Regions from separate parts of the Homo sapiens genome. Here regions 1 and 3 are each linked to region 2. Evidence: fine-mapped expression QTL. A gene starts in region 2. Each other region holds a variant in brackets. All regions are shown on one strand. Distances are from middle to middle.

Evidence for each region. PIP is the estimated chance that this variant, and not a neighbour inherited with it, causes the effect.
Region 1: its variant is fine-mapped to the expression of SPINT1 in whole blood (TOPMed, PIP above 0.99).
Region 3: its variant is fine-mapped to the expression of SPINT1 in blood mononuclear cells (TOPMed, PIP 0.98).

Annotation. Positions count from the first base shown.
Region 1 is chr15:40,916,961-40,927,194 of GRCh38, forward strand. No RefSeq gene overlaps it. Among named protein-coding and RNA genes, the nearest start is that of DLL4, 7.3 kb to the right of the region's middle. RefSeq lists an enhancer at 8,226-9,071. The variant A/G (reference allele first, on the strand shown) is at 4,457.
Region 2 is chr15:40,840,006-40,850,239 of GRCh38, forward strand. It overlaps SPINT1 (serine peptidase inhibitor, Kunitz type 1), which reads left to right and starts at 4,043. Exons shown (of 11, transcript NM_003710.4): 1 at 4,043-4,181; 2 at 4,485-5,024. The coding sequence starts at 4,550. SPINT1-AS1 (SPINT1 antisense RNA 1) reads right to left here and starts at 4,519. Exons shown (of 2, transcript NR_146468.1): 1 at 4,174-4,519. RefSeq lists silencers at 3,481-3,663, 3,825-4,054, 4,135-4,194, 4,485-4,724 and an enhancer at 3,616-4,187.
Region 3 is chr15:40,929,615-40,939,848 of GRCh38, forward strand. It overlaps DLL4 (delta like canonical Notch ligand 4), which reads left to right. Exons shown (of 11, transcript NM_019074.4): 1 at 1-120; 2 at 233-502; 3 at 1,011-1,068; 4 at 1,889-2,152; 5 at 2,557-2,617; 6 at 2,703-2,833; 7 at 4,934-5,103; 8 at 5,284-5,503; 9 at 6,614-7,316; 10 at 7,804-7,912; 11 at 8,415-9,459. The coding sequence starts at 55. The coding sequence ends at 8,420. Among named protein-coding and RNA genes, the nearest start is that of DLL4, 5.4 kb to the left of the region's middle. RefSeq lists an enhancer at 8,587-9,403. The variant C/T (reference allele first, on the strand shown) is at 5,502.

The DNA.
Region 1 (10,234 bases), 77 kb after region 2:
TATTGTTAAGTGAAATATGTTAAGTGAATATTTGTTACTTAAGTAGAGCATAGAATGTCCCTTCCCTGGCATTACAGATAGAGGGAGACATCTTAGGGGTCAGGGACAGAATGAGTTTCAATTGCATCAAATGTTGGAGAAGCCCAGGCGCGGTGGCTCACACCTGTAATCCCAGCACTTTGGAATGCCGAGGGAGGCAGATTGCGTGAGCCTGGGAGTTCGAGACCAACCTGAGCAACATGGCAAAACCCCATCTCTACTAAAAATACAAAAAATTAGCTGGGTGTGGTGGTGGGCACCTGTAGTCCCAGCTACCTGGGAGGCTGAGGTGGGAAGATCACCTAAGCCTGGGAGGTGGAGGCTACAGTGAGCTACGATTGTGCCACTGCACTCTAGCATGGGTGACAGAATGAGAGCCTGTATATATATTAAAAAAAAAGCCATGTTGGACGAGAGAGGGGATGGAATGAACCTGGACCTGCAAGCTGGCCATAGAGGAGAGCTCACTAAGATCCCTTTTGGTTCTTGGCCGCGCTGTTACTAGCTGAGGGGGCTTGCAAGTCCCTAGGGTCTGCCTAGAGGTCCTGTGGGTTACCACCCCCTCTGCTCAAGTGATCTTGCCCACCTGGAGGTTCACCAAAGCCTGAGAAGCAGGACCGCAGAGCAGGCTTTTTTCTCCTCTTGAGGGGGGCTTCTTGCCCTAGGATTCCCAGGGGTCTCCCCTTTCCCCCTAGAGGAGCCCAACACAGCCCTTTCGCCATCACAGTATTTTCCAAACAGGTGGAGGATGCTGTGGCCCAGTAGCCACCTGGCTGCGGAGCGGGGAAGCCCAGTGCACGTCCCTGGGGCTTCTCTCAAGCTGCGGCCGCTCCTTACGAGCTTAGGCTCTAACCCTTGGCCTGGGCAGTGGGCAATAGCTTCAGGAGCTTGGAGTGAGGGGGCTTATGAGGGAGGGGGCCCACTCCCAGCTGCCTAGCTGTGGGTACTAACAGGCCACGCTGGGGCGGGGTCGGGGGGGCAAATAGATTGAGGGGGGGCACCACCACCTGCTTTTCCTTGTTTTGTTTTCAGGGCACTAATTACTGTGCTGAGCTCCGAGCTGCCTAATGAGGCCGTTTGGATTTCCTGTTGTTCTGGCTTCCCAAGACCCTTAAAGGGCCAGCATGGAACTAAGAGTGTGATCTGGGTGGGACACCAACTGCTCTGGTGGAGGTAAGCACAGAGGGGCTATCCCCAGATTTGGCCTGAATGCCGGGGGCAGTGAGCGGATGAGAGGCTGGTCCAGTTCGCTGCTCCCACGCCCTCTATGAGTACCCGCTCAGAAGTGCCCATGCCGGAAGCAGGAGCTTCAGGGCTGCATAGCCTGGCCAGGGCATGGGGTGGGGAGGGGGAGGCAAGGAGGCCAGGGCTGAGGAGGAAAGGCTGGTGATGTCACCAGTGCCCAGACTGTGAGAACCGCTGCAGCACCAGGCAGGAGGGAAACGCTGTGATGTCCTGCCTCCCCACTGGAAAATAAACACTTGTTGTCTGAGCGGCCAGCACCACTTCCAGAGGGGCAGGCTGGCGAGCCTAGGGGCCCAGAAACAGGCTCGGGCCCAGTGTTGGGCAGAGATCTTTGCCCAGGCTGGATGCAGGAGGGTCAGGCTGCCCCCAACCTAGCCTCGCTGTTGCACACCACCCAGCAAGGCTCATGGGCTGCGCCGGTCCCCTCTGCACCTTAGGGCTCTTCTGTGCATGCAGAGGAGCTGAGCATGGCTGGGGATGCCAGGAGCCCACTTCCTTAATGGACTGGCCGGGCAGGAGGGCACTCATCTGCCTGCCTGTGTCTGCCTCCTATTTGGGGCACAGCCTCCGCCCCAGGACCTATCCCAAGTGCCCCTCGCGCTGCCTCAGGCTGTGAGTCCCCTGGGCCCCTAGTATGCCTGGCCTGCAGCACCCTCCCCCCCAGACAGGGTGACGACATTGTTGTTCTTATACGGGGCCTTCCGCCTGAAGTTCCGGCTCTGCTAAATGGTGGGAATGAGGGTCCACGGGACAAAGCCAGCCTGGTTCCCGCAGCCACCTCAGAATGGACGGAATCCCCATTGTGTGCGGGCGCCTTGTGCCCACCCTCCCCTTACCCTCGCCGGACGTTGCCAACAAACAGCTCATTGAGCCCAGGGAGGGGCCCAGGAGACAACAATGTCCCCCAGCCGGCCAGAGCAGTGAACTCAGCTAGGGGTGGGAGCTGCCACGGAGGCTGGAGGGTGATGATCTCAGCCTGGGAGACCTGAGTCTGACCTGGGTCTGGTCTCCCTGGTGAGGGTGAGAAGGGCTGACCTGGCGGCCTCACCCTGGCTGCTCCACCCCCAGCTTGAGCTGGAAGGTTCTCGTGGCCCAGCCTAGGGGACCAAGCAGGCTGTCCACAGGACCCAGCAGAGCCATCCCAGGCCCAAGGGGCTAGTGGACCCTCCCTCTTGCAGTGCCATTCTGGAATTCCCTCCGCAAGGCCTAGACCAAAGCCCTCTCAAACCATCAGCCCAGTGCCAAGCATGTGTCAGGACTTTCAGATCCACAAGAGGCTGCACTTTCTATAACCAGAACCATCTAAAGAGCATGGGACAGCCTGGAGAGGGGGTGAGAGTCCTGTCCCCAGAGGTATTCGAGTCATTAGTTATTGAATATGGTGTTGGTCCAAGTGCCCTTCAGAGCTCACCTCACCCTGAGCTTCTAGACATAGGGCCCCAAGTCATTCCCCCAAGGTACCTCTGGACTCCCTTTTTGCTTTCCAGGCCCGATCCAACCTTTCTCCTCTTCCAGGCAAGTCTGGGCTGCCAGGAAGGGCCTCGGGCTTCTAAGGGGAAAGAAGGCAGGGGAGAGGGCTGGCCAGGAGAGCAAGGAGGCAGGGGAGAGGGCTGGCCAGCCCAGCAGCATGGCTGAAGCTGCCTCCACTTTCAGTATGGTTGCCCGGGAAGCCCTGATGCCAGTCTCATGTTTGCAGGGGACTATCTGGAAAGCAGAGGGTGAGAGGAGAGAGAAGCTGCTTTCAGGGAAAATGTGGAGTCTATCTCAGCCAGTCATCAGGCCTCTGGCATTCTCAGGTGCCCCACCATCTATGCATAGGAGCTGCCAACTCAGGGACAGGACTCAGAAATAAGTGCTCACCTGGTCACCAGCCACAGATATAGAAATGTTCCTAGCTGCCTCTGGCCTTCTTTCTGTACCTCCCTGCTCCAGACTACCCTGCATACCACTGCCAGAAAGCATGCAGACGGCACTCTCCTCTGCTCAAGAACCCACAGGCTCCCTAGTACCTATCAATCAAATCCAAATTCATCTGTCTGGTGGGTTTCCATGCCATAGCTATGTAACTTCATGTCCACCCTCCATAGGTGAAGTCTCTGCCCCAGCCATACTTGGTTCATTTGCACCCAGATCCTTTGCCTCTCTTCATTCTCTTGTCCTTTTTTTTTTTTTTTTTTTTTTTTGAGATGGAGTCTCGCTTTCTCACCCAGGCTGGAGTGCAATGGCACGATCTTGGCTCACTGTAACCTCTGCCTCCCAGGTTCAAGCAATTCTCATGCCTCAGCCTCCCAAGTAGCTGGGATTATAGGCGCCCGCCACCACGCCTTGCTAATTTTTGTAGTTTTAGTAAAGACGGGGTTTCACCATGTTGCCCAGGCTGGTCTCCTGAGCTCAGGCAATGAGCCCGCCTTGGCCTCCCAAAGTGCTAGGATTACAGGTGTGAGCCACCGCGCCCGTGCCCCCACCCCCTTCTCTTTATCTAAATTCTGTTCTTTTTCCAGGCCCAGTGTCATCCCTCCTCCCCTACAAAGCCTCCTGTGACCCTCGGGGCCCCAGTTGCTCTCTGAAGCCTGGTTCCACAGGTCATCACACTCCTTTTCATGTGCTTCTATCTAATTTCCAGCTGCTGTGAGCAACAAGGGCTGAATTTTATGTTCCTGTGTGGCCTTACTAACCTGAGCCCAGTGCTAGGCACATGGTAGACCTCATCCACAACTGAGTGGCTGATGGACCCAAACTCTGCACATGCACATCACACACACACAGGGGTCCTGGGAACACTAACCATGGGGCCCATAGGGCCATGCCCCAGATAGAATGCACCTTTTGCATGCCTTCTCTTCTCTTGGTGATGGTTTTGATAGACTTGTCCCAGGTCTCCCCAGTTTCCTCCTCACCTGGAGAAAGACTATAGTAAGGGGGTGGGGGTTAAGCCACAGGAGGAGAGGAGGGGAAGCAGGAGAAGCACTGGGAAGCACAGGGATCTCAGCAGCCACAATGGCTCCAACAATAGCAGTGTTCACGCTGCCCAAGCAGGACTCATGAGACTGGGGCAAGTGGGCCCAAGTGTGGATGCCTATTTCTTTTTTTTTCTTTTTGAGACAGAGTCTTGCTCTGTTGCCCAGGCTAGAATGAAATGACACGATCTCGGCTCGCTGAAACCTCCGCCTCA[A/G]TGGTTCAAGGGATTCTCCTGCCTCAGCCTCCCAAGTAGCTGGGATTATAGGCGCCCACCACCATACCCAGCTAAGTTTTTTTAACTATTATTTTTAGTAGACATGGGGTTTTGTCATGTTGGCTAGGCTGGTCTTCAAACTCCTGGGCTCAATGATTTGCCCACCTCGGCCTCCCAAAGTGCTGGGATTACAGGTATGAGCCACCATGCCTGGTTGATGCCTATTTATTTTTTTATTTTTATTTTTATTGTTATTGAGACAGAGTTTCGCTCTTGTCACCCAGGTTAGAGTGCAATGGCTTGATCTCGGCTCACTGCAACCTCTGCCTTCCGGGTTCAAGCGATTGTCCTGCCTCAGCCTCCCGAGTAGCTGGGATTACAGGCGCCTGCCACCACGCCCAGCTAATTTTTGTGTTTTTAGTAGAGATGAGGTTTCGCCATGTTGGCCAGGCTGGTCTTGAAGTCCTGACTTCAGGTGATCCATCTGCCTCGGCCTCCCAAAGTGCTGGGATTACAGGCGTGAGCCACTGCGCCTGACTGATGCCTGTCTATTTCTAAACATACAGAGTTGGTGGAGGCTGTTACTGAAACCCCTGGTGCTAAACACCCTGACTACATTGTCACTTGGGAGATTCTCTATGAGCTCCCAGATCTTAAATCCAGCCTGCCCCTTTGCTGCAGTTTGTGTGGCTGGACAGCTCCACTGGGCTTGATTTTCTGAGAGTGGCACCCAGAGGGGTGGGGGCAGGAGAAACAAAGTGAGTTTGGCTCACAGTGGTCTAAACATTGTCCAGAAAACTCCTTGGGTCTCCCAGGGAGCCTAGCTCCTGGTGCCTCCAGGTCTCTCTGGACTTCTTCCCTGGGGAAAGTCTAGACACGAGGAGAATTCTCTGGCCTGGGGTTTCTTTGCTAATCACAGGCAAGGCAGGTTACTCATTAGCAAGCATCAACGTGCAATTCTCATCAGTTCAGGGGAGAGTTCAACCTGGATTGACAGCTGGGATCCACTGTATAGACACTCGGTCACAGGAAGTTCTCCCATACGTCTAACCTAAATCCTTCCTGCCACAGTTGAAGCCTGTTTCCTCTCATTCTGACTGTGGTGGGAGAAGGAGACAGCCGGTCATCATCCTCTGCTTAAGACCCAGCACCTACTTGACCATGGCAGTGGGATTCCTCCCCAGCCTTCTCCAGGGAACAGTGGCCTGCCTGCTCAGGCCGTTGTTCACAGTTGGCACCTGTCCCCCGACTCTCCCCGTTTCTTCCTCTGTGTCTGAGAGTATTTGAAACAGTACTTCCTGGTTCAGGATTGACCCTTCTTTCCAGGGAGTCTGCGGGGGAGCAGGGCCGATCTGAGTACAGCCCACTCCCAGGTTGCCCCAGCGGGAGAGAGTGAGGTGTGGCCCCATCCCCGCCTCGTGCTTGCTTCAAGTCCTGGGTGGCAGCTGGGATCAGAGATCAGAGGCTATGTGGAGAAATGAGGAAAGGTCAGGGTTTCTTCCAGGAGATGAATTGTCACTCAGTAGGGGGAAGGCAGAGGACACGCAAGGACCTGGGGACGCCAAGGGATTGGGGAAATCATGGGCCTGGATGCTAATGGAAGGCCAGAGCCAGAGGAGGGGTGTGAGGCTGAGGGGGAAGGTGGGGCTGGGAGAGCTTCCCAGCTGGCAAAGGTCACAGAGGAAATAGGTTTCAGGGATGGGCAACCAGTATCCTGAGAGGGGGCAAGAGGAGAGGACAGTGAGGTGAGCACGGCCAGGGTGGAGGATGAGCAGGTAAGGAAGCTTTTACAGGGGAAGCAAAACCTCAGGGTAGGGAGGCAGGTCCAAGAGGGTGGCTGAACCCCTGCTTTCAGCTCAGGCTCTGCCCCCCACCCCACCATGTCCTTCAGCACAAGTTCTCTTTTGCCCCAGTGACTCCCAGCAAGGCTTCGCCCTGTGCCCTCCATTCTCTGACCCTACAAGACCTCTTAGAGGCCTCTGAGCCCTATAGGATCCAGGTGGGGAGGCAAGGGCAGGCTCGGGCCAGGCCTCCCACCCGGGGGTCTTCATGCAAGGCTGCCCTGAGCCTTCCCTCCCTTCCCCTGAGCCTCCCTGCTTGCTGGCTAGGGTAGGGACAGGAAGGAGCTAGGGAAGGGGAAGCCGGGGGCTCTGGGAAAGTTGCTGCGGAGGCTGCCCTAAACCCTGGCCTGCTCCGTGGCTGGAAATACCCACTGCGTGGCTCCTGGCCCTAGCTTTCCAGGCATTCCCTGGGTTTGGCAAATGAAGCTGGGGCAGCTGCCGGGTCACCGTAACTCTAGCCCTTGCAGCCAGGCCTATCTAGGCTTCTCCAGCTGGCAGGTCTTCACTCTGCCCCCTCTTCTTTCTCTCCTGCTGACCAGCACCCAGAAGGCCTGGAGAGAATGTCTGCCGGCCATGAGTCATGGTTAGAAGATGCTTCTCATGTGGCGAACCCTCAGCTTCTCTTCTCTTGGGCCCATGGTCTCCGCAGACCCAAGCTGTTCTCCTCCAGAAGAAGAGGGCCCAGTCCATACCAGTTACCGCAGTCCCAGGCATCTCCTGCACTGGGGCTTCTGAGAAGGCAAGGGAGACAGTCTGCAACTAGCCTAGGCCCTCGGGCTCCTGGGGAACATGGGAGGAGGAGAGGGGAGGCCCTCCTGGTCTTGTGAGAAGCAAGAGCAGGGACTCTGTCTCCTGCCAAGGGTCCCAACCACTTGGACATCCCTTCCTTGGCACATTTGGGTCATCAGTCATGAGCCATCAGCCAGTGGATGGTCCAGCCCGGTCAGTGTGCTGTCTTGGTGACACAGAGAGGGCTGATCTGCCAGGAGCTTCAAGGACCAGGGCAGAAGATGCCCCTCTTTCCTGCCACAGGTCTCAGCTCTGAACTGCCACCATGAAGGAGGAGGGGTTACAATTTGAAACCTACACTTGGCCCTGGCAGGAGTGCCGTCTTGGTTTCCGAAGGCCAAGACTGTGAGCAGTTAGTTCCTCCAAACCTTCATATCTTCCCCAAACCCATTCTCAAAGCTCCAGTCTTCTCCCTCCAGTCAAGAACTTTGTCACACCCTCTTGCCACAAACAGGACCTCCAACAGTTGGCTTTTTCCACAGGGTCCGGATCCCTTCCGAGCCCCACCTAGCTTTCCTCTCTTTTTTCCCCACCCTCTGCTCCTCATGCCTCATCCCTTATGAGCATTTGTCTGCGGTTCTCCTTTTTCCTTCATTTCCTTCTGGAACTCATTTGCAGTCAGGGAGCTCCCCTCCACTCTAAGTCTGCCCCTGACTGTCTGGATGTCACCTGGGGGAAAGGAAATGACTGTTTATTGGGTCCCATGAATGCATAATCTGATACAGTCCCTCAGCCACTCTCCAAGGCTCCAAGGTTATTATTATTATTATTATTATTATTATTATTATTATTATTATTAGAGACAGAGTCTCATTCAGTCGCCCAGGCTGGAGTGCAGTGGCATGATCTCTGCCCACTGCAAACTCCGCCTCCCAGCTTCAAGCAATTCTCCTCCCTCAGCCTCTTGAGTAGCTGGGATTACAGGCAAACACCACCATGCCTGGCTACTTTTTGTATTTTTTTTTGGTAGAGACAGGGTTTCACCATGTTGGCCAGGCTGGTCTCGAACTCCTGACCTCAAGTGATCTGCCCTCCTCAGCCTCCCAAAATGCTGGGCTTATAGGCATGAGCCACCACACCGGCCATCCCTATTATTATTATCCCATTGCACAGATGAGAAAACTGAGTGTAGAGCTAGAGTTAGGTTACAAGCCCAAGACCACATGGTTAGGAAGTGCCAAGAAGCAGGTCCATGTCAGGCTTATTCACCAGACTCACCTGGAGGGTGGGGAGAGACTCGTTCCTCCTGCCTCCTCCCCATCTCTGCTCAGTCCCCCTGACCAAGATTCTTCAGAGTTCGGTGTCCCTCAGCGCCCATGCCCTACCCCTTCCTTCTCACCGGGGCCCTTCTTATCATCAGTCACTGCATCCTGTTCCTCCCTTGAAGCCCCCAGATGAGTTCTCAAGGCCACCACCAAGTCATCACCTTCCTCACTCCTCTCTCCAGTCTCAGGCCTGTTCTATGGGGAACCCACTCTGTCCCGCGGGAAAAACCCTCAGCAGGCGGTTCCTTGTGGGGGCTCCAGAGAGAGGTGAAGGAGGCCACGCGGGGCACCGCCTGCTGAGCGGGAATCCCGTCCCTAACCGCTGGCGCCCCTCGAGGGGAGGGGCGAGGGCGGAGGTGGTTCTGCTGCGGCATCTGTCCCAGGCGGGCGGGAAGCTGCTGCATTAAATTGTAAAATCGATTTATTGACCGGCAGGTGCGAGCAGCGGCAGATGGAGAGTAGCCCTGCCGGGGCGCATCTGCGGGGAGCGGCGGCATCGATCCCGGCCCCCCTCTGAAACCCGTCGGTCCTGGGCCTTTCTCGCCAGCTCACTCCCAATTGTAGGGCCAAGGTCCTTGAAACTGCGGCGCCTGAATGGCTAGGGTAGCTCGACTCCCTCCCCCAACACCCTCCTGGCCTCAGGCCCCGGGCTGCGCCCCCACGGCTGCCAGGCTCTGCCAGTCCCACTGCCCCAGTTGGCACGCGGCGGGCCGGGCTGACGCGTGGCAGCGCCCTGCGGCAGATGAGGCACGCGCCGGCCTCATTTCAATGTGAATGGATCGAATGGAGCAGCCATGTGGCAGCAACAGTTTGCAAATCTCCACGCCTTCTGTGCAGCTCCCCGGCCGCCGCTCCCTGCACGTGGCCCCTTCTCCGCAGCGACCGCAGCGGCGCCCCTCAAGGCTTAAGCGCCCCGCCCAAGCCAGGCCTGCTTCCCCGCCCCTGGTCTGCCCAGCAGGCACGGTGGCCCGGCCCCCACCGCGCTCCTACCCGGGTGCAGTGTGCCCCGCGAAGAGCGCCGTCCCCTGAGAGGGGGTTGGGGAGAGGAGAGGCAAAACCGCGCTGAAGGTCTCGGAGCTGCGCCTGCGGCCGTGGGGAGGGCACAGAGGCTACGCTGCGGGGGAGGAGTCCCGAGGCTCTACGAGGCTCCTGTTGCGCCCCAATAACCTGGGGTCAGCTTGGGGACACCGCTGGAAGGCGACCTTAGCGCTTCCCGGTCCTCAGTGCCGGTTCTTATGGCTGGAGGACTATGCGCAATGGCCAAGCGTAGGGGGACAGCAGAAGCAGAAGGCCTCTAGGGGCAGAGGCGGTGGGCCTTTCATGAAGCCAGGCCTCGACCCTGCGCCCGCTTCCGACGTTGGGGAGTGTTGAGGGTGCGGGTCGAATTGAGGAACCCTGGGCCTGCGGAGGGTCAGTGGTCTTTCGGACTCTGGGTCTATCTGTGCACCCTTTCCATGCTGTTGTGGAGGGTCTGCGTCAGGGGCGGGGGCAGCCGACTTCGATGGGGGTCCAGCCCCACGGTGATCGGTGGCCTCCCATCCCAGGACCACGCGTGTAGCGTTCTTCCGCCCGCAAGTCCGAAAGTCCCGAGTGGGAGAAGAAGGAAGGCGCAGCCCCAGTTTTGGGCTGACAGAAACACTTGCGGCCTTCGCACTGGGCTCCCCACCCGCAGCATGACCCTCTCCTGCTCAGCAAATGTGGGCAAAGCTCGACCGCAGCGTGTGGGAGCGCTCGTAGGTACCCAGGGCCAAGGGTGGCAGTGTCCTAGCCCGGGAATGAGCTTCTGGGACAGCGCCTCCGCAAATAGGTGTTTCATGAATGTCTTTTGATGCTGAGAATTTAACCCTTTCCTCTTCTGGTCAGAGCCTTTCTAGATCTCTGGG
Region 2 (10,234 bases):
TCTCGAACTCCTGACCTCAAGCAATCCTCTTGCCTTGGCCTCCCAAAGTGTTGGGACTACAAGCGTAAGCCACGGTGCCCAGCCAGGGGAAGGGTTTTAGCTGACTCTCCTCTGACAGCTCTGACACTCTCTGCCTAAGCAAATACTGAACTTCATGAGTCGGTCCAGGGAACAGTTGGCTCTGTACACTCTGCCAGAGAAGTTCTTGGGGATGACTGAGGGTCTGAACAGGTGAGGGACAGATGAAGGCAGGGCTGGAGGAGGGAACCACATGGCAGTGTGCAGGGTGGCCTGGAGTTCCATCAGGAAGCTGGCACAGAGCCTAGATTAAGGGCAGCAGTGGGAACAGACAAGAGATGGATGTGAGTGATTACCAAGGAAGACTGTCATCAAATATGGTATGTGGAGGTCATCACGGTGTGTCTCTCTCTTCATTATGGAAGCATCCCATGTTCACTGAAGGGATCTTGGAAAATATTTTTAAAACTAGAAAGAAGAAATGTTATCCTACAGTCTCACCATTCAAATACCATCACTTTCCCTACTTTGATGGCATACCTTATAGTCTTTCTTCTCTTCACATGTAGTTTTTCTTATTAGTATGTAAGAAGCAGCATAAGGTAGTATGGAAAGTATGGCTTTTAATGTCAAAAAGACTTCAGATACAATCCTGGCTCTGTCACTTTTTTAAAAGAATCATTTCGACTTTTATTTTGTTTACTTATTTTTGAGACAGGGTCTAGTTCTTTCACCCATGCTGGAGTGCAGTGGCATGATCATAGCTCACTGCCACCTTGACCTCCCTGGCTCAAGCAATCCCCCCACCTCAACCTCCTGAGTAGCTGGTACTACAGGCATGCGCCACTATGCCTGGCTAATTTTTTGTATTTTTTTTTATAGAGACGGGGTCTTGCCATGTTGCCCAGGCTGGTCTTGAACTCCTGGGCTCAAGCAATCCTCCTGCCTCAGCCTCCCATAGTGCTTGGATTACAGACATGAGCCATTGCACCTGGCCTCAACTTTTATTTTAGATTCAGTGGGTACACATGCAGGTTTGTTACATGGGTATAGGGTTTGGGGTACAGATGAGCCTGTCACCCAGGTAGTGAGCATATTACCTAAAAGGTTGTTTTTCAGCCCACGCTCCCCACGCTCCCCTCCCTCCTTCTCTCTTCTGGTAGTCCTCAGTGTCTATTGTTCCATCATTATGTCCATGTGTACTCAATGCTTAGCTCCCATTTATAAGTGAGAATATGTGGTATTTGGTTTTCTGTTCCTGCCTTAATTTGCTTAGGATAATGGCCTCCAGCTGCATTCGTATTGCTGGAAAGGACATGATTTTGTTAATTTTATGGCTGCATAGTATTCCATGGTACGTATGAAGTACATTATCTTTATGCAATCCATCATTGATGGGCATCTAGGTTGATTCCATGTCTTTGCTATTGTGAATAGTGCTGTGATGAACGTACAAGTGCATGTGTCTTTTTGGAAAAACAATATATTTTCCTTTGGGTATATACCCAGTAATAGGATTGCTGAGTTGAATGGTAGTTCTAAGTTTTTGAGAAATCTCCAAGCTGCTTTCCACAGTGGCTGAACTGATTTACATTCCCACCAACAATGTATAAGCGTTCCCTTTTCTCTGCATCCTCACCACCATGTGTTTTTGTTGTTGTTGTTGTTGTCGTTTCAAGTAACATTTATTGAGAACTCTTTGTGTCAAATGCTTTGTCTGCATTAACTCAATTAATCCTCATAAAAAACCTTATGAAGCCCCACTTCCCATTCAAGGAGACTAAGGCAGAGAGATCAAATAACTTGCACAAGGCCACACGAATAGTAAGTGGCAGATGCAAGAGCTAAATCCAGTAGTCTGAGTCTGAAGCTCACAAGTTCAACTTCTCTACAACCTGTCACCACTCTTCGTTCACTACCTGACCTTGATGGAGTCAGTGAACCTTTCTGCAAAGTGGAAGCAATTTTTAGAGTTGTCCTGAGCATTAGCAATCCTATGTCAAGTGCCTGGAGGGAACACAGTGGGCATCTCAACAAATGGTGGGTGCTCACCACTTGAAAGTGAGTTATGGGTTTAAGCAAGTTGAATCTGAGGTGAGGGCAGAACTTCCAGATGAAGTCAGAATTGCAAAGGCCATAAAGCCCAGGGTTTAAGCACTGAAGCCATGGAATTGGCCTGCCTGGGCTCCAATCCCTACTCTGCCGCTTCAATGCTGAATGACCTGACAAGTCAGTTTACCTGTCTGAGCCTGTTTGCTCATTTGTAAAATGGGGCTAAAAATACTACCTCCCTAGGTTTGTTTTGAGTATAGGGTAATATGTGGGCAGTGCTTAGGAACAGAGTTTGGGCATTGTCAGTGCTGAATTCATGTTGGTTTTTATAATGGTGTGTATAATGGATGTAATGATAAATTTATGGTGATGTAATATTACCATAAGGTAATATTTTCCTGTATTAAGATTCTTGAGGTCAGGCACAGTGGCTCACGCCTATAATCCTAGCACTTTGGGAGGCCGAGGTGGGTGGATCACCTGAGGTCAGGAGTTCAAGACCAGCCTGGCCAAAAAGGTGAAACCTCGTTTCTACTAAAAATACAAAAATTAGCTCGGCGTGGTGGTGCCCACCTGTAAGCCCAGCTACTTGGGAGGCTGAGGCAGAATTTCCTGAATCTGGAAGGCAGAGGTTGCAGTGAGCCGAGATCGTGCCATTGCACTCCAGCCTGGGTGACAGAGCAAGACTCCGTCTCAAAAAAAAAAAAAAAAAAATAAATAAATAAATAAATAAAGATTCTTGAATGTGTTAGCCATAAGGGGAAATCAAATCACAACAAAACCCTTTCTTCCCAGTGACTGCACAATCATTTTCTTCATTCCCAGCATACCACCATTGTTGTATATCCACCAGTGTGCCAGGGTCTGTGGATAAACCCTAAACATCCAGAGAAGGGGAGACAGGCCCCAGATTCCCACCCCAACACGCATCATGTGAGCAGCTGGAGGATGTTGCAGTTCAGCAAAATCCAAGGGTTGGCCACAGGATCTGCTAGGCAAAGCTGCTCTGGATGAGAAACTGGGAAGAATGTTCCCATTGGTTTGGGGGTTGTTAAGCCATCAGGAAAAGGTTTGGAATCTGTATTTTAAGAGAGCATGCTATGTGATTCCTTCCTCCAGCCCTGCCTTCATCTGTCTTTCACCTGTTCAGACCCTTGCCGTAGAGAATGGTCTCTTAAGAGTTTTTTACTCAGGAGGAGCAATGAGCTTGGCTTCAAGGAGTCCACTGTTTCGTGAAGGGCATTAACTCAGCTACTTGGTGAACTGGAACCTCCAGGCTTCCAAGGATGACATTTCCCTGGAAGAAAGTAGCCAGCAGCGTCCCCTTTGTGAAAGAGAGGAAGCCTGGGCTCCAGGGAAGGGGGCAACAGTCCAATGAGCCATAGCAGGGAATGGACCGAACTGTACATACAAGATGAGGAGGGGCCTCGAACAACAGGGAAGCCCCGTGGAGCACGCAGGGGAGCCTGGACGCGGGGAATCGCCTCCGTTTCTCACCCTGACAGCAGGGAGGGCTTCCCGGAGCTGACAGTGAGGCAGACATCCCGGATCCCTGTTATCACAGGTGCAGCCACGCAACTTTTGGGTTACCTTCCCGCCACGAAATGGAAATGATTTCCTGAGGGCCGGAAAGATCATTTGCATCGGGCCTCAGGTCTGGGGCTGGGAAAGCAGGCCCCGGCCGGAAAGGAAGACTGGAGGCCGCCGCCCCAGAGGCCGGACCCTCGCGTCCCGGCCGCATCCCCTCCCGGCTGGGTATGCGCTTCGGGCGCGGGGCTCCCTCGCGAGGCTGGACTGGGTGGAGCCCGAGAGCCCCTCCGGGGAGCTGGCTGCCGGGGAGGCACCGGGGCTGCGGGGCCGCGGGGCGGGCCGGGCCTGGAGCTCCGCGCTAGAGGCGGCCGCAGCGCACCGGGCGTGGGCGGGGCCGGCAGCGCAAGGGTGAATGTCGGCCCCGCCCCGACGGCGCTGACTCAGTTTCACCAGAAACCAGGGGGAGAAGGCGGCCGAGCCCCAGCTCTCCGAGCACCGGGTCGGAAGCCGCGACCCGAGCCGCGCAGGAAGCTGGGACCGGAACCTCGGCGGACCCGGCCCCACCCAACTCACCTGCGCAGGTAACCCGGGCCCCCGCGCGCAAGGCCGAGGCGCAGGCGGAGCGGGCTGGAGCATGTCCGGCCCTTTGTTCTGCGCTCGTGCGTGTGTCCGGGTACTTGAGCTCCCTAGCGGTCCGCCTGTCCGTCTGTCTGGCTGCCGGGTCCCTGGAGGGCGCGTGGGAGGGCCGGGCCCGTGCGCCCTCTTCGATCCTGGGGTGCTCCGGTCCCTCCTCCCCGCCACTTCCTCCCGGCCGGCCCGCCTCCTCCAAAGTCTCCCGGGCTGATCAGGTGTGTCTCCTCCTCTGTCCCCTCCCTTCTTCTCAGGTCACCAGCACCCTCGGAACCCAGAGGCCCGCGCTCTGAAGGTGACCCCCCTGGGGAGGAAGGCGATGGCCCCTGCGAGGACGATGGCCCGCGCCCGCCTCGCCCCGGCCGGCATCCCTGCCGTCGCCTTGTGGCTTCTGTGCACGCTCGGCCTCCAGGGCACCCAGGCCGGGCCACCGCCCGCGCCCCCTGGGCTGCCCGCGGGAGCCGACTGCCTGAACAGCTTTACCGCCGGGGTGCCTGGCTTCGTGCTGGACACCAACGCCTCGGTCAGCAACGGAGCTACCTTCCTGGAGTCCCCCACCGTGCGCCGGGGCTGGGACTGCGTGCGCGCCTGCTGCACCACCCAGAACTGCAACTTGGCGCTAGTGGAGCTGCAGCCCGACCGCGGGGAGGACGCCATCGCCGCCTGCTTCCTCATCAACTGCCTCTACGAGCAGAACTTCGTGTGCAAGTTCGCGCCCAGGGAGGGCTTCATCAACTACCTCACGAGGGAAGTGTACCGCTCCTACCGCCAGCTGCGGACCCAGGGCTTTGGAGGTGAGGAGGGTGCCAAGATGGATGGGTTTGGAGAGACTCAAAAAAGGGACTGGTTATGGGGTCCTAGGGGAGACGAACATCAGAGAGGAGTTAAGGAGAGTTCACTTTTTTTTTTCTTTTTCTTTCTTTTTTTTTGCGACGGAGTCTCGCTCTTGTCGCCCAGGCTGGAGTGCAATGGCGCAATCTCTGGTTGCTCACTGCAACCTCCGTCTTCCACGTTCAAGTGATTCTTCTGTCTCAGCCTCCGGAGTAGCTGGAACTACAGGCACCCGCTACCAGACCCGGCTAATTTTTTTTTTTTTTTTTTTTTTTTTTTTTTTGGTACAGACGGGGTTTCACTATGTTGGCCAGGCTGGTCTTGAACTTCTGAACTCAGGTGATCCACCCACCTTGGCCTCCCAAAGTGCTGGGATTATTTCTACCTGAAGCCCTCCTTAGAAGTAGGCAGTACAGCCGAATCAAGCCTGGTGATCAATGGGGTGACAGATGTCACAGCCAGATCGCCTTCACATCGGTAGTAGGCAGTACAAACAGTAAACAAATGAAAGGGGACATGAGTAGGGAGGGCAGGGCCCAGGCTCTGGCTCCTGAACTCAGGATGTTCAGAGGTGATGGGCTGGTGCTCACAGGGAGGCCTTTGGCTCTGGGCTGTGTGTACTGGAGGGGAGAGGAAGTCCCCAGGACTCCTGACCTCTGGCACTGATAGGCTGATTGAAGGAGTGAGCTGTCTGGATGGTCTGGTGACTAGAAAGGCACCTTGGCCAAGCACTGGTCTGGGCACACCGATGCCCTGTCAGGTGAGCCTGGCCATAGTCTCCTCCACTGGCTGGACTTGGGACTGCTTAGCATCTCTCTACCCCCTAGGAATGCATTGGCCTTTTGGTGGTCCAGGAAGACTGCCAGATCCGAGACTAGAAAACAAGCCCAGTCTGCGGTTGATCCAAAGGGAGAGAAGTGATGTTGTAGGCACAGAAGCCTAGAGGCTCTGGGGTGGGGGATGAGGAGGGTTGTGGGGTGAGTCAGCCTGTTGGTATGTATACCTAGTAGGGAAGGGATGTCAGCTGTCCAGGCAGGTGTGTGTGCATGCGCATGAGCCAGACAGGGCTCTCCCTGCTTAGAATCTGGTAGCCAAACCTTGTTTACTTCCATAGATAAAGGCAAAGCGGAGGCCAGGGCTCCTCCTCTTTCTTCCCCGGACTGAACTGTCTGCTGGGATCAGGGCCAGTCCAGAGCCTTGGTTCCCCCTTTCTCTCTACCTGCTGTTCTGGCCAGGTGGGGCTCCAGGGCAGGGGTAGGTCACCTCTCATAACCTCTGTGAGCACTTTACAGCTTACTGATTGCTGTGCCACACATCCTCTCACTCAGGCCTCATCACAACAACTTCCAAAAAGGGTGCTACTAGCAGTCATCCCACTTTTTAGATTAGGAAACTAAGACTCCCATGTTAAAGAATTTGCCCAGGGTAACACTGCCCATAAATGGTAGGCCTGAGATTCACCCCAGGGGAGACCTCCAAAAAAAGTCCTGTGCTGTTTTTCACACAAGACCATCTCTCTGGTAAAAACCTAGCATTCTGACCCAAAATAGCCCAGTGGATAACAGAACCGGGGATTGGGGAGTTTGGGGGCCAGAACTGGGCTGGGGCCACATCTGGGGGTGGTCTCCGTTCTGGAAAGTGGAGAAAGGGCTTTCCTCCGCAGACTTTTCCTGGGCTAGTCTCTCTGCCAGGCTAAGGAGGGTCCTCTTTCCTCCCTATCCTTCCAGTAGCTCTCCTGGGTCTCTGAGGAGAGGCGAGATGGGGATTCCTGTGGATGGGAGGGGGACATATCTGAGGGCCAGTCTGGGCCACCAAGTCCCACTGAACCAGGGCTGCAGCCTGTTCCACAAGGAAGTAGCAGAAAGTGTAGGTGGTGATGACTCTTACTGACCTGAGTTGCTCATGCCCTTCCTGCTCCACAGAGGCCCCATGGGAGTCCCTCTCCAGAGCCAGAGTGTGAAATTCTGGAGTCTGGTCAGGGAGCTTAGCTGGACTATGGCCCCATGGTCTTGAGACCAGCCATCCTCATCTGGAAACCCCCAGGACCTGCCTGTTTGCCACAAGAGAGGGTGGAGTGGGGATTTCCTGGGACATTGAGGGAGGCAGGTAGGGCTTGGACTTAGTATGAGCTCCAGGCCATTCTAGGCCATTCTTAGAGTGCTGCAGTGCTTTGGGAAGAGGAAAAAGCTGTGTGTGTGTCAAGGGGTTTATTCTCACCTGGGTCCAGTTAGAGAGGTTGGAGGTGGGTAATGACAGGGTAGAGCCATTAAGGGCTAGGGTGGATGAGGTGGGTTGGGTGACGTGGGTCACGGGCACTGAGAGCTTCCAAACCTTTGATTCTCCTATTGCATAGATAAATGCTCCCCAGAATGGGTTTGTTTGTTCCTCCTTCTGCCTGTGGCCAGGCCAGGCCAGTACAGATTCCTGCAGCTGGAGGCGGAGCAGCTTGCACTTCCTCTTCTCCCCTTCTCTTCCCCCACCTCTCCTCCTCCCCAGTCCTATGAAGGAGTGGCTTAGGAGGCGGAGTCTGCACTTCCCTGAGGTCCTGAGACCTGGTAACTAACTGGGGGAGGGGCTGGTTTTATTGCCACTCTAGCCCTTTGCTCTCTTGCGGGTGGGAGGAAGGGAGTGGTAAGGCAAGGTACCTGCTCCTTGGTCCTGGGGGCTGGGGCTTGGAGAGGACTGAGTTGTGTTGGGGTGGGATTCAGCCCCTGATTCAGCTCAAAGTCTGATGCATCACTCTGCATGCTACTTCCACTCTGGGGGCCTGGTGGGGCTAGCCTGTCTGTCTGCTAGGCAGACTGCTAAGTAGTCTGTCTTCTTTCTACAAAATGCAAGGAGGGAGGACTGCGCTCCTCCCAGCTCGCTACTCCCTTGGCAGGTGTTCTCAGGGTACTCTCCTGTTTGTCAGCCAAGCCCCTGGGCTGGGAGGTTGCCTCCAGACAGCCACTTTTCGTTCCTGCTCATCCCTGTCTTATTTTCCCTAATCCCTGGAACCCAGTTCTCTTTTTACTATTTTTGTAGGCCTCTGAAACATTCAACATGTTTCTTCCTGAAATCTCTCCCTTCCCATCCCTTTTGCTGTCATTGTGCATCCTGGTCTTCTCAGCCCCAGAACCACCTTCTGTGAGTCCCCCATTGGCTCTGCTTTCTCTACTTCATCAAAGAGGAATCCCTGAGACTCGGCCTCCTACCAGCTGTTCTTAGCTCTTTACCTTCTCTTCTTTCTTTGCATTCACTCTAACACTTGAAAAAACTCTCTAGAGAGCCTCTGTGGAGGGTAGTTGGGCAATATCTATCAAACCTAAATGCACACAGCCCTGGACACAATTCCACTTGTAGGAATTCATCTTGCAGCTGTACCTACACACGGATAAAACAACTTACCAGCCAGTTAGTCCCCGTAGTATTGTTTATAATAACGAAGAATTGGAAACAATCGCATTGTCTGTCAACACATCCTATAATTGAATACTGTGATGCTGTTTTCATAATAATAATAAACCCTAAGGTAGCATGGTTTAGTTCTTAGGAGAGAAAGAAAGAAAATCTAAATCAGGAAACTGGTAGGGACTGTTTAAATAAATTATAAATTGTGGTGCATTTATACAATGAATATGATACAACAACAACAACAAAAGGAAACTCTTTATGTGTCACTATGGAATGATTTCCAATATATATAAAGGGCAAAACAAGATGAAGAACTCAAATGCTTGTGAATTCAAATACTGTCTCTTGATATTCTCTCTCTCTCTCTGTCTCATACATACCTTTGGGGTAATAAACCTGATGGAGAAGGTTCCTTCTTAAGGAGAAGAGGTGACTTAATTTTGACTAGGCTTTTGTACCTTTTGGTTTTGGTTTTTCTGTTTTTTTTTTTTTTGAAATGGGGTCGGGCCGGGCGCGGTGGGTCACGCCTGTAATCCCAGAACTTTGGGAGGCCGGGGCGGGCGGATCACGAGGTCGGGAGATTGAGACCATCCTGGCTAACACGGTGAAACCCCGTCTCTACTAAAAATACAAAAAATTAGCCGGGTGTGGTGGTGGGCACCTGTAGTCCCAGCTACTTGGGAGGCTGAGGCAGGAGAATGGTGTGAACCCAGGAGGCGGAGCTTGCAGTGAGCCAAGATCACGCCACTGCCCTCCAGTCTGGGCAACAGAGCAACACTCCGTCTCAGGAAAAAAAAAAAAGAGAGAAATGGGGTCTCACTCTGTCACCCAGGCTGGAGTTCAGTGGTGTAACCACAGCTCGCTGCAGCCTCAACCTCACAGGCTCAAGCGATCCTCCCAACCTCATCTTCATGAATAGCTAAGTAGCCATCACACCATCACACCTAGCTAATTTTTTATTTTGTAAATACGAGGTCTCACTATGTTGCCCAGGCTAGTCTCAAACTCCTTGGCTCAAGCCATCCTTCTGCCTCAGCTTCCCAAAGTGTTGGGATTACAGGTATGAGCCACCACACCCAGCCACCTTTTGAATTTTATGTCATATATGTATTACCTAAACTAGAAAAGCAAAATTTAAAAACCCAACATTATAAAAGCAATTAAAATCACAACCTCTGAGGGGGTGGATAACCTATAGAATTACGTTTTGGAGAGAGCATTTGCTGTGGAGTCTGACAGACCTTGGTTCAAATCCCAGCTCTGCCTTTAGAAACTGAATGACTCTGAGCAAGCCATTTAATCTTTCTGGTGTCAACTTTCTCATCTGAAAAGAGGGTGAGAATGTAGGTGTAGCAGGCTGGTTTTGAAGGTACATCATGGACTCCAGGGGTCAATAAACTTTTTCTGTAAAGATCTAAATAGAAATTATTAGGCTTTGTGGGCCATAGGGTCCCACTTGCGACTGCTCAGCTCTGCTGTTGTTACATGAAAGCAGCCATACTCAACATGTAAATGTGTGGGCAAGGCTGTGTTCCAATCGATGGACACAAATTTGAATTTCATGTGCTTTTCACATGTCATTACAAAGGATTCTCCTTTTGTTTTTTCTTTTTCTTTTCTTTCTTTTTTTGAGACGGAGTTTCGCTCTTGTTGTCCAGGCTGGAGTGCAATGGCGCGATCTCCGGCTCACCACAACTCCGCCTCCTGAGTTCAAGCAATTCTCCTGCCTCAGCCTCCCGAGCAGCTGGGATTACAGGCATGTGCCACCACACCCGGCTAA
Region 3 (10,234 bases), 90 kb after region 2:
CGCGAACAGAGCCAGATTGAGGGCCCGCGGGTGGAGAGAGCGACGCCCGAGGGGATGGCGGCAGCGTCCCGGAGCGCCTCTGGCTGGGCGCTACTGCTGCTGGTGGCACTTTGGCAGCAGGTAACACGTCCCGCGCCCTCTCCGTCCCCTCTGCCGCGCTCTGGGCCTCAGCCCCGGGCACCAGCTGAGCTGACCGGTCCCCTCCCTCCTTCCCTCGGTCCCTGTGCAATAGCGCGCGGCCGGCTCCGGCGTCTTCCAGCTGCAGCTGCAGGAGTTCATCAACGAGCGCGGCGTACTGGCCAGTGGGCGGCCTTGCGAGCCCGGCTGCCGGACTTTCTTCCGCGTCTGCCTTAAGCACTTCCAGGCGGTCGTCTCGCCCGGACCCTGCACCTTCGGGACCGTCTCCACGCCGGTATTGGGCACCAACTCCTTCGCTGTCCGGGACGACAGTAGCGGCGGGGGGCGCAACCCTCTCCAACTGCCCTTCAATTTCACCTGGCCGGTGAGCACAGCCTGGGCGCACTGGGAGGTCGCAGAAGCCGAGAGAGGAGGCGCCCTGGGACCAAAGCCCCCTCCCCAGATTTCCTTGTACACACACCCCCACCCCCAAAAAGCCCAGGATGCATTCTTTCCTGGCTCTTCCCGACTCTCTCCTGAGACTGATCCCAGAAAAGGCTCTCACCAGTCTCCGTCTTCCCAGTTTATGTCCTCCCGTCCCCAGCTCTTGGGACACGATTTTCATTACCTACCACTCTGGGGCGGTACCCTACCACCCCCTCCTCCAGTGGCTCTCCCTTACACTCTCCCGTCTCTCAACCCTCCCTCTACCGGGGGTTCTCCTCTCGCCTTCCCTGCTCAAGCGCTACACTGTGCACAGCCCCGTTATGTTGACCCGGGCGCAGTAACTGAATCCTGCAATTAGATTAATTAAACAGGCTGCCGCAAGGCACCCCCACCTCTCCCCGCTTGCTCATCTCGCCATCTCTCCGTCCCCCCACCCCCTTTCCCAGGGTACCTTCTCGCTCATCATCGAAGCTTGGCACGCGCCAGGAGACGACCTGCGGCCAGGTGAGTAGCTCGCTCCGCCACCACAGGGGGGCGACACGGCGCAGCGCCGAAAGAGTTAATCTGTTCTAGGCGGGGGAAGTGCGGGCTTGGGGGTGGGAGGCAGGACGCTTAGCTTGGCCTGGAGCTGCGCCCCGCGCTGGACGCTCGGATTCCGCTCGCTGCCTGGACTCAGAGCACAATTGCGTTTCCTGCGGGTTATTTTTGGCGTGGGAACGCGGGGAGTACGGCGGTGAGAAAGGCTGAAGCTGCCAGCGCCGCTGACGGGCCCCTTCCTGTATTTTACACCTTTCGCGAATTCCGCTCCTTTGGAAAGGGAATAATGGCTTTGGGATGTTGTTCTGACACAGAGGAAAAGGATATTTCAGCAGCACAACAATTCTCACTTTGAAAAGGAAAAAAGAAAACCATTACCCACCTCTGGAGGCAGAACCCCTGAATGGGCACCAAAGGACCCCCTGCTCCCAGGGTCCTCTCTAGCCTGGGGAGCTTTTCTTTCTTTTTCTCTTTTTTCCATTTTGACCTCTTTTCCTCTTTCCCCTCCCTATCTGCCTCCAAGACCCTGGGATATCTTAACATCCTTCTATTGTCCCCTTTTTGAATACTATCAGGCCCCCTGCACATGCACACACGTAGGGCAGCTACGTAGCGGGGCTTTGGGTCCCTCTGGCCTGTTCTTGCTGGCAGGCGGGGGTCATCTGGATAACTGGGCTGATTGGTTGGCTGATCACCATCATCACAGCCAAGAAGGACATTGGCCAGCCGTCACTGGCACCCTTGGGGACTGGCGACCCTTCCCTGACCCGACCCTCTGCCCCCTCAGAGGCCTTGCCACCAGATGCACTCATCAGCAAGATCGCCATCCAGGGCTCCCTAGCTGTGGGTCAGAACTGGTTATTGGATGAGCAAACCAGCACCCTCACAAGGCTGCGCTACTCTTACCGGGTCATCTGCAGTGACAACTACTATGGAGACAACTGCTCCCGCCTGTGCAAGAAGCGCAATGACCACTTCGGCCACTATGTGTGCCAGCCAGATGGCAACTTGTCCTGCCTGCCCGGTTGGACTGGGGAATATTGCCAACAGCGTAAGCAGTCAAGCTCCCACCTGTGTGGAAGGGGAGGGTCCCCTGAGGAAACACAGTGGAGCTTCTTGGTCACAGCTTGCCTCCCTTGAAGAGTGGGTCTGGGCCTCCTACTAGCTGGGCCTCAGGGATGCTGAGGGTGGGCTTGACCTCAGACCTCCTGTCTCTTCCCAGTGCTCCTCCCATCATGCCAAAGCCCACAAGAACCCCATCATGACATTCCATCCAGTTTGGCTTCTCCTTCCCTGTGCCATTATTTCACTTTAAGACACTCGGGGCTCCTCTGGGAGGCCAGGAGTAGGAAGAGGGCCCAGGAGAGCTAGGGGATCCCCAGGGCCAGCAGGTGAGAATGGGGCTTAAGAGTCCTTGGTATCCCAGCCTCACCCAGCTCTGTGTTCTTCCCTTAGCTATCTGTCTTTCGGGCTGTCATGAACAGAATGGCTACTGCAGCAAGCCAGCAGAGTGCCTGTGAGTAGGGGACAGGAAGTGGTGAGTGGGAGCCCTCCCTTGGCCAAGGCCTCTCACCTCACTCTGCCTCTCTCTTGTTCCCCAGCTGCCGCCCAGGCTGGCAGGGCCGGCTGTGTAACGAATGCATCCCCCACAATGGCTGTCGCCACGGCACCTGCAGCACTCCCTGGCAATGTACTTGTGATGAGGGCTGGGGAGGCCTGTTTTGTGACCAAGGTGAGTCAGGGTGAAGAGAGGGTGCAGAGGGTGCAAGAGATATGGGGCTGGGGGGTGGAAATCCGATTCGTCACCTGGATCCTTCTTACTTGGTGACTGCAGACTTGGCTTTCCCATGATCTTCCAAGGATCTTGGGTCTTTTAAGGATCTTTACAACTGGCCCAGAATGAGGCGGTGGGTCCTTCTCCAGGTGCGGCGGCAGGGGGTGGTGGAGCCAGGGTGGCTGAAAAACCCAGGGGGGTGACAAGGTCGGCAGCCTGGAGGTTGCACTCATAAATCCTAGCAAAGCCAAAGAGAGAGGGATGGCAGGCTCAGTTCCTCTTTCAACCCCGTAGTTACCTATTAACCCCCTGAGTGTTTGCTTACCTTCCAGGGCTGTTTGAGCAGCTCTCCCCTAAACAGCTGTCCGGTGGGGTGTGCCCACCGGCCACCTGAGGCTGTGGGTGAGCTGGGCCTCTGGGCGGAGTGGCATCTAACCGACTTTTCGGTGTGGGCACAAACGGCCTCCCCTGCTCTTACCTAGTTACCACCTGCCTGAACCCATGCGGTCTCTACCTGGTGTTTAGGGGTAGTCACTCTCTGGCTATACAGGGGCCTTTCAGCCCCAACCTTGGGGGAGGAGGAAGCCTTTTTTCTTGCATCCTGCTAGCCAGCTGCAGCCAGCTGCAGCTCCCATTTTCAGGATCAAATGGGTGCACCTGCTGCCCAGAGACACCGGCGCAGGCCTGGGTAGGGTGGGCAGAGAGCTTGCCAGGGTGGAAAGAAATTGCCTAGGCCCTGACTTGCTGTCAACAAGGGGCTTGGGATTCAGTCCCTGTGTTGTGTGTGTGTGTGTGTGTGTGTGTGTGTGTCTGTCCCTTTACTACCATCCCCACCCCAACACTCACACACCTGGTTCCTGCTCATTCTCTTCCCTCTCCACCATATTTGCTCCCAGGTGACACAGTCATATACTCATCATATGCAAACACAGCACTTGCAGGCCATATATTTACTCTGTCTGGTTCTCCCTCCCTGTCCTTCCCAAATAAAAAAACAAATACTTATATTTCAAAATACCCTTGTAACACCTCTTCCTTTAAAAAATGCCCGATTACTGCCTATGGTGGCTCTCATCTCTCCTCTACCATTTCTACCTGTTGAAATTTTATCCCTCCTTCCAGGCTTATCTCAGCTGCCCCTCCTCCATGAAGCCTTTTCTGACTTCCTCCCCGACATGTGGCCTTGCCCTCTGCTCTTCTTCCTTATCTTCATCCTACTTGGGTTGGCAGTTTGTGAGTTTCCCTGGCAGGACGTCTTCCAGTTCCAGTTGTGTTGTTTCACTTTTGGTTGACTGCACTGGTCATATGTGATTCAAGGTGCTTTAAGAAACATGATTTTCATCCTGGCTAACACAGTGAAACCCTGTCTGTATTAAAAATACAAAAGTTAGCCAGGTGTGGTGGCAGGCACCTGTAGCCCCAGCTGCTGGGAAGGCTGAGGCAGGAGAATGGCGAAGTAGAGCTTGCAGTGAGCCGAGGTCGTGCCACTGCACTCCAGCCTGAGTGACAGAGCAAGACTCCGTCTCAAAAAAAAAAAAAAAAAAAAAAAAAAGAAACATGATTTTAGGCTGGGTGCGATGGCCTGTAATCCCAGCACTTTGGGAGGCCGAGGTAGGTGGATCACTTGAAGTCAGGAGTTCGAGACCATCCTGGCCATCCTGGTGAAACCCCTGTAAAAATACAAATATTAATCGGGCACAGTGGCGCATGCCTGTAATCCCAGCTACTTAGAAGGTTGAGGTATGAGAATCGCTTGAACCCGGAAGGCGAAGGTTGTAGTGAGCCTATATCACATCACTGCACTCCAGCCTGGGCGACAGAGTGAGACTCTGTTAAAAAAAAAAAAAAAAGAAGGAAAGAAAGAGAAAGAGAGAGAAAGAAAGAAAGAAAGAGAAAGAAAAAAGATTTTATTGGTGGTGGAGGAAGGATGTTTGGGCCTGGGAGACTTTGAGTTGAGGTGTCTTTGAGCCAAACATGGGGGCAAACATGGACTGCAAGGAGCCTGGAGGTGAGTGCATTCCCTGGCCCTGCTCAGCTGCTTGGTTCCTGTTTCTGCAGATCTCAACTACTGCACCCACCACTCCCCATGCAAGAATGGGGCAACGTGCTCCAACAGTGGGCAGCGAAGCTACACCTGCACCTGTCGCCCAGGCTACACTGGTGTGGACTGTGAGCTGGAGCTCAGCGAGTGTGACAGCAACCCCTGTCGCAATGGAGGCAGCTGTAAGGTGAGGCCCAGACCAGCGCAGGAAGACAGAGGTGTCAGGTGGTGTCTGGGCATCCCTAACCTAGGCAGTTAGTGGATGTACAGCCATGGACAGGCATTGTGGGCAGGTGGAGCCCAGCCTTCAGTCACACATCCCTGCCCCCCAGGGTCTGACTTTGGCCCCTTTATGGTCTCTCTCCAGGACCAGGAGGATGGCTACCACTGCCTGTGTCCTCCGGGCTACTATGGCCTGCATTGTGAACACAGCACCTTGAGCTGCGCCGACTCCCCCTGCTTCAATGGGGGCTCCTGCCGGGAGCGCAACCAGGGGGCCAACTATGCTTGTGAATGTCCCCCCAACTTCACCGGCTCCAACTGCGAGAAGAAAGTGGACAGGTGCACCAGCAACCCCTGTGCCAA[C/T]GGTGCGTGCTGCTGCCCTGCTAACCTGGTGGACTGGCCCTGGGGCTGAGAGAGACTTCTGGTGAGGGAGGGTCAGGAGAGGAGCGAGGCATTGTCTGCCACTCTGGCCCCCCATCTGCTCTGGAGGGCGAAGAGCTTGCTTGATCAGCTGGGGGGCTGTGGAAGCGGAGCTGGTTAGTTGCACGCAGGCCTTAGGAGCAGGGGTGGTATGCACCCTGCATAGCTTCCATTCCTATTCCCATGTCAGAACCCCGTCCTGGCTGGGGTGGCCTCTGACCCTCCCCAGGAAGTCCTGAGCTGGAGAGAGGGATGTTGGAGGCTTCATGTTTCTCCTCAAAGGAGGCAGTGATTCAGTCAGAGCCCTGCTCCTGGAGGCCTCATCTTGCCCCGTGCCCAGGTAGAGCATGAGGTAGCATGAGGCATCTTGAATGTTTGCACCTTTTGAGGCACAAAGCCTGTTGGTAATCCTTGTCTATCTGGCTCCCAGGTGACCCTCTGTGAGGCAGGCAGGCAGGCAGCGCTCAGGAGCTGGAGAGGGGTGGGAAGGGCTGAGAGGGAGTCTGCTCTCTCACTGAAGCCTCTGGCACTGCCATTTCTTCATCACTGAATGGGAAACTATAATACCTGTCCTCTGTCCTTCATGTGGTTGTGAAGATGAAGTAAAACAGTCATGATTGTACTTATCCGAGCATTAACTATATACCAAACATGGGCTCTTGCCTTCATGTACCTTCCCGGCTATCCTATGAAGGGGCTAGCATTCTACTCCAGTCTAACAAATGGGGAAACTGAGGCTTAGAGACACGGTTAAGCAGCAAGTGCCAGATCTCAGGCCACAGAGTGACAGCTGAGGTCCCAACTCAAGCCTATCTGTCTGATTCTACGTTAAAGTTCTGTAAGATGCTAGTCATTTTTATACATGAGCCCACTGAGGCCGAGAGAATCAAGGTCATGCTAAACTCCAGGTCTCCTGACTCTGTGCAGTTCTCTTTGTAGTGGGCTCTGCAGGTGGAGGTAGAAGGGCCCGAACGTGTTCCTGGAATGGGGCTCCCACCCCCTGCCCCAGGGAGCTCCCAGGCTATCACTGACTTGTGTCTCATGCGTCCTCACAGGGGGACAGTGCCTGAACCGAGGTCCAAGCCGCATGTGCCGCTGCCGTCCTGGATTCACGGGCACCTACTGTGAACTCCACGTCAGCGACTGTGCCCGTAACCCTTGCGCCCACGGTGGCACTTGCCATGACCTGGAGAATGGGCTCATGTGCACCTGCCCTGCCGGCTTCTCTGGCCGACGCTGTGAGGTGCGGACATCCATCGATGCCTGTGCCTCGAGTCCCTGCTTCAACAGGGCCACCTGCTACACCGACCTCTCCACAGACACCTTTGTGTGCAACTGCCCTTATGGCTTTGTGGGCAGCCGCTGCGAGTTCCCCGTGGGCTTGCCGCCCAGCTTCCCCTGGGTGGCCGTCTCGCTGGGTGTGGGGCTGGCAGTGCTGCTGGTACTGCTGGGCATGGTGGCAGTGGCTGTGCGGCAGCTGCGGCTTCGACGGCCGGACGACGGCAGCAGGGAAGCCATGAACAACTTGTCGGACTTCCAGAAGGACAACCTGATTCCTGCCGCCCAGCTTAAAAACACAAACCAGAAGAAGGAGCTGGAAGTGGACTGTGGCCTGGACAAGTCCAACTGTGGCAAACAGCAAAACCACACATTGGACTATAATCTGGCCCCAGGGCCCCTGGGGCGGGGGACCATGCCAGGAAAGTTTCCCCACAGTGACAAGAGCTTAGGAGAGAAGGCGCCACTGCGGTTACACAGGTGAGTGGCACCCAGAAGCCCAGGGCCTGGCCACCGGCCCCGACATGGTTCTGCCTAGGCTCCTCTTAGGCCAGGCGGGAAGCAGTTAAGCAGCTGAGGTTTTGTTACTGACAGGAAGATCCTCCAGTAGGATTTCTGTCAGGGGTCCTTTGTCCTTCCCTCCCATTCATTCATTTGTTCATTCACACATGTCAAGTGTCCCTAGGGTGTCTCTTGTGACTTCCGTCTTTCCACAGTGTGGCTTGCCTCTAGTGGCAGCACTGGCTTTATGCAGGGCTCAGACCCTTCTGGTGAGGTTGGGAGGCCTGTGACTCTCTTAGGGGCCTTTTCCTAAGTGCCCCCCTGCAGCAGCCCAGCACTGGGCACGTCCAGCCCCTGTGTCTTCCCCAAGAACCACCCTGCAGATGCCCTTTGGCTCTCCAGGGTCCTCCCTCCCCCCAAGCCTCTCCCCGTCCCTCCCTTACACGCCTGTCTTGTGTTCCCTCAGTGAAAAGCCAGAGTGTCGGATATCAGCGATATGCTCCCCCAGGGACTCCATGTACCAGTCTGTGTGTTTGATATCAGAGGAGAGGAATGAATGTGTCATTGCCACGGAGGTGAGTGCTGGGCTCGCCTTTCCTTCTGCCTTTTGTGGGAGGGAAAGTGGCCTGGTCACTCTTGACCCATGGGCCATTCCTGAAGGGTAGGTCAGAACCCTGCCTTGGCAGGCCAAGTTCAGTGGACTCTTGGGTCCCTGCTGGCCTCATTGCCACTAAGGGTGTGAAACAGGAACCATGGCGGCAAGCCTGGTCTGGTCCTTTCCTGCTGTATTGGTGCTGGGTTGGGCAGCCACGGCACTGCTGGCCAGCCTCTGATGGGTGAGGGGGCCCCTCACCCCTTGTGCCCTTCCTGCCCCTTCCCACTGGCTTCCTCCATTGACCTCATGAGCGCAAGCTCCCAGGCCCGTGTGTGTGTTGGGCCGAAGACTGGGGAGGACTGCCCCACCTGCCCTTAGCCCCTGCCTGCCCCATCGCCTTCTCCCAGGGAGGCCCAGGGAGGGCCTGGAGGGAGTGCGCATGCCCAGGGTAACCTGTTTCCCTGCCTTCCGCTTGCTCCCAGGTATAAGGCAGGAGCCTACCTGGACATCCCTGCTCAGCCCCGCGGCTGGACCTTCCTTCTGCATTGTTTACATTGCATCCTGGATGGGACGTTTTTCATATGCAACGTGCTGCTCTCAGGAGGAGGAGGGAATGGCAGGAACCGGACAGACTGTGAACTTGCCAAGAGATGCAATACCCTTCCACACCTTTGGGTGTCTGTCTGGCATCAGATTGGCAGCTGCACCAACCAGAGGAACAGAAGAGAAGAGAGATGCCACTGGGCACTGCCCTGCCAGTAGTGGCCTTCAGGGGGCTCCTTCCGGGGCTCCGGCCTGTTTTCCAGAGAGAGTGGCAGTAGCCCCATGGGGCCCGGAGCTGCTGTGGCCTCCACTGGCATCCGTGTTTCCAAAAGTGCCTTTGGCCCAGGCTCCACGGCGACAGTTGGGCCCAAATCAGAAAGGAGAGAGGGGGCCAATGAGGGCAGGGCCTCCTGTGGGCTGGAAAACCACTGGGTGCGTCTCTTGCTGGGGTTTGCCCTGGAGGTGAGGTGAGTGCTCGAGGGAGGGGAGTGCTTTCTGCCCCATGCCTCCAACTACTGTATGCAGGCCTGGCTCTCTGGTCTAGGCCCTTTGGGCAAGAATGTCCGTCTACCCGGCTTCCACCACCCTCTGGCCCTGGGCTTCTGTAAGCAGACAGGCAGAGGGCCTGCCCCTCCCACCAGCCAAGGGTGCCAGGCCTAACTGGGGCACTCAGGGCAGTGTGTTGGAAATTCCACTGAGGGGGAAATCAGGTGCTGCGGCCGCCTGGGCCCTTTCCTCCCTCAAGCCCATCTCCACAACCTCGAGCCTGGGCTCTGGTCCACTACTGCCCCAGACCACCCTCAAAGCTGGTCTTCAGAAATCAATAATATGAGTTTTTATTTTGTTTTTTTTTTTTTTTTTGTAGTTTATTTTGGAGTCTAGTATTTCAATAATTTAAGAATCAGAAGCACTGACCTTTCTACATTTTATAACATTATTTTGTATATAATGTGTATTTATAATATGAAACAGATGTGTACAGGAGTTTATTACTTATTGGGTCCTGTCTTTGTGATGGTACCCCTGCCCTCTCACCCAAAAAACTCTAAACTCCCTTCTACTGCTGCCATGTGCCCCGCCGGAACCCCTGGGACCCGTGCAGACACTTGGATTTGGCATGTCGTACCCCAGGCCCTTGTCTTCTTCCATTCGTTGAGGAGCCGAGCCTCACCCATCTAGTCCCCAGCCTCAGCCAGCCTTCCTTGCCTGCTGACTTTGAGTTGGTACAGTGCCCCCTTCCCTCTTTATGCCCTCACCATTCCTGGGGCATGTTCCTCCTGACCTGAATCACTTCTTCCTTCCTCTCTTCAAGCCTGAAAAAGCTTATGGGGCTCCCTAGTTCTGCCTGTTTTTCTCATATTCAAAAGGATTCTCTTGGCCGGGAGCGGTGGCTCACGCCTATAATCCCAGCACTTTGGGAGGTCAAGGCGGGCAGATCACGAGGTCAAGAGATCGAGACCATCCTGGCTAATAGGGTGAAACCCCGTCTCTACTAAAAATACAAAAAATTAGCCCAGTGTGGTGGCGGGTGCCTGTAGTCCCAGCTACTCGGGAGGCTGAGGCAGGAGAATGGCATGAACCCAGGAGGTGGAGCTTGCAGTGAGCCAAGATAGCGCAACTGCACTCCAGCCTGGGCGACAGAGCGAGACTCCATCTCAAAAAAAAAAAAAAAAAAAAAAGCATTCTCTCGTCGGTGGATGGGATAGGGCCTCTGCACCCTGGTGACATCTGAGTCCTTCCTCCTGCTGTTGCAGGGTGC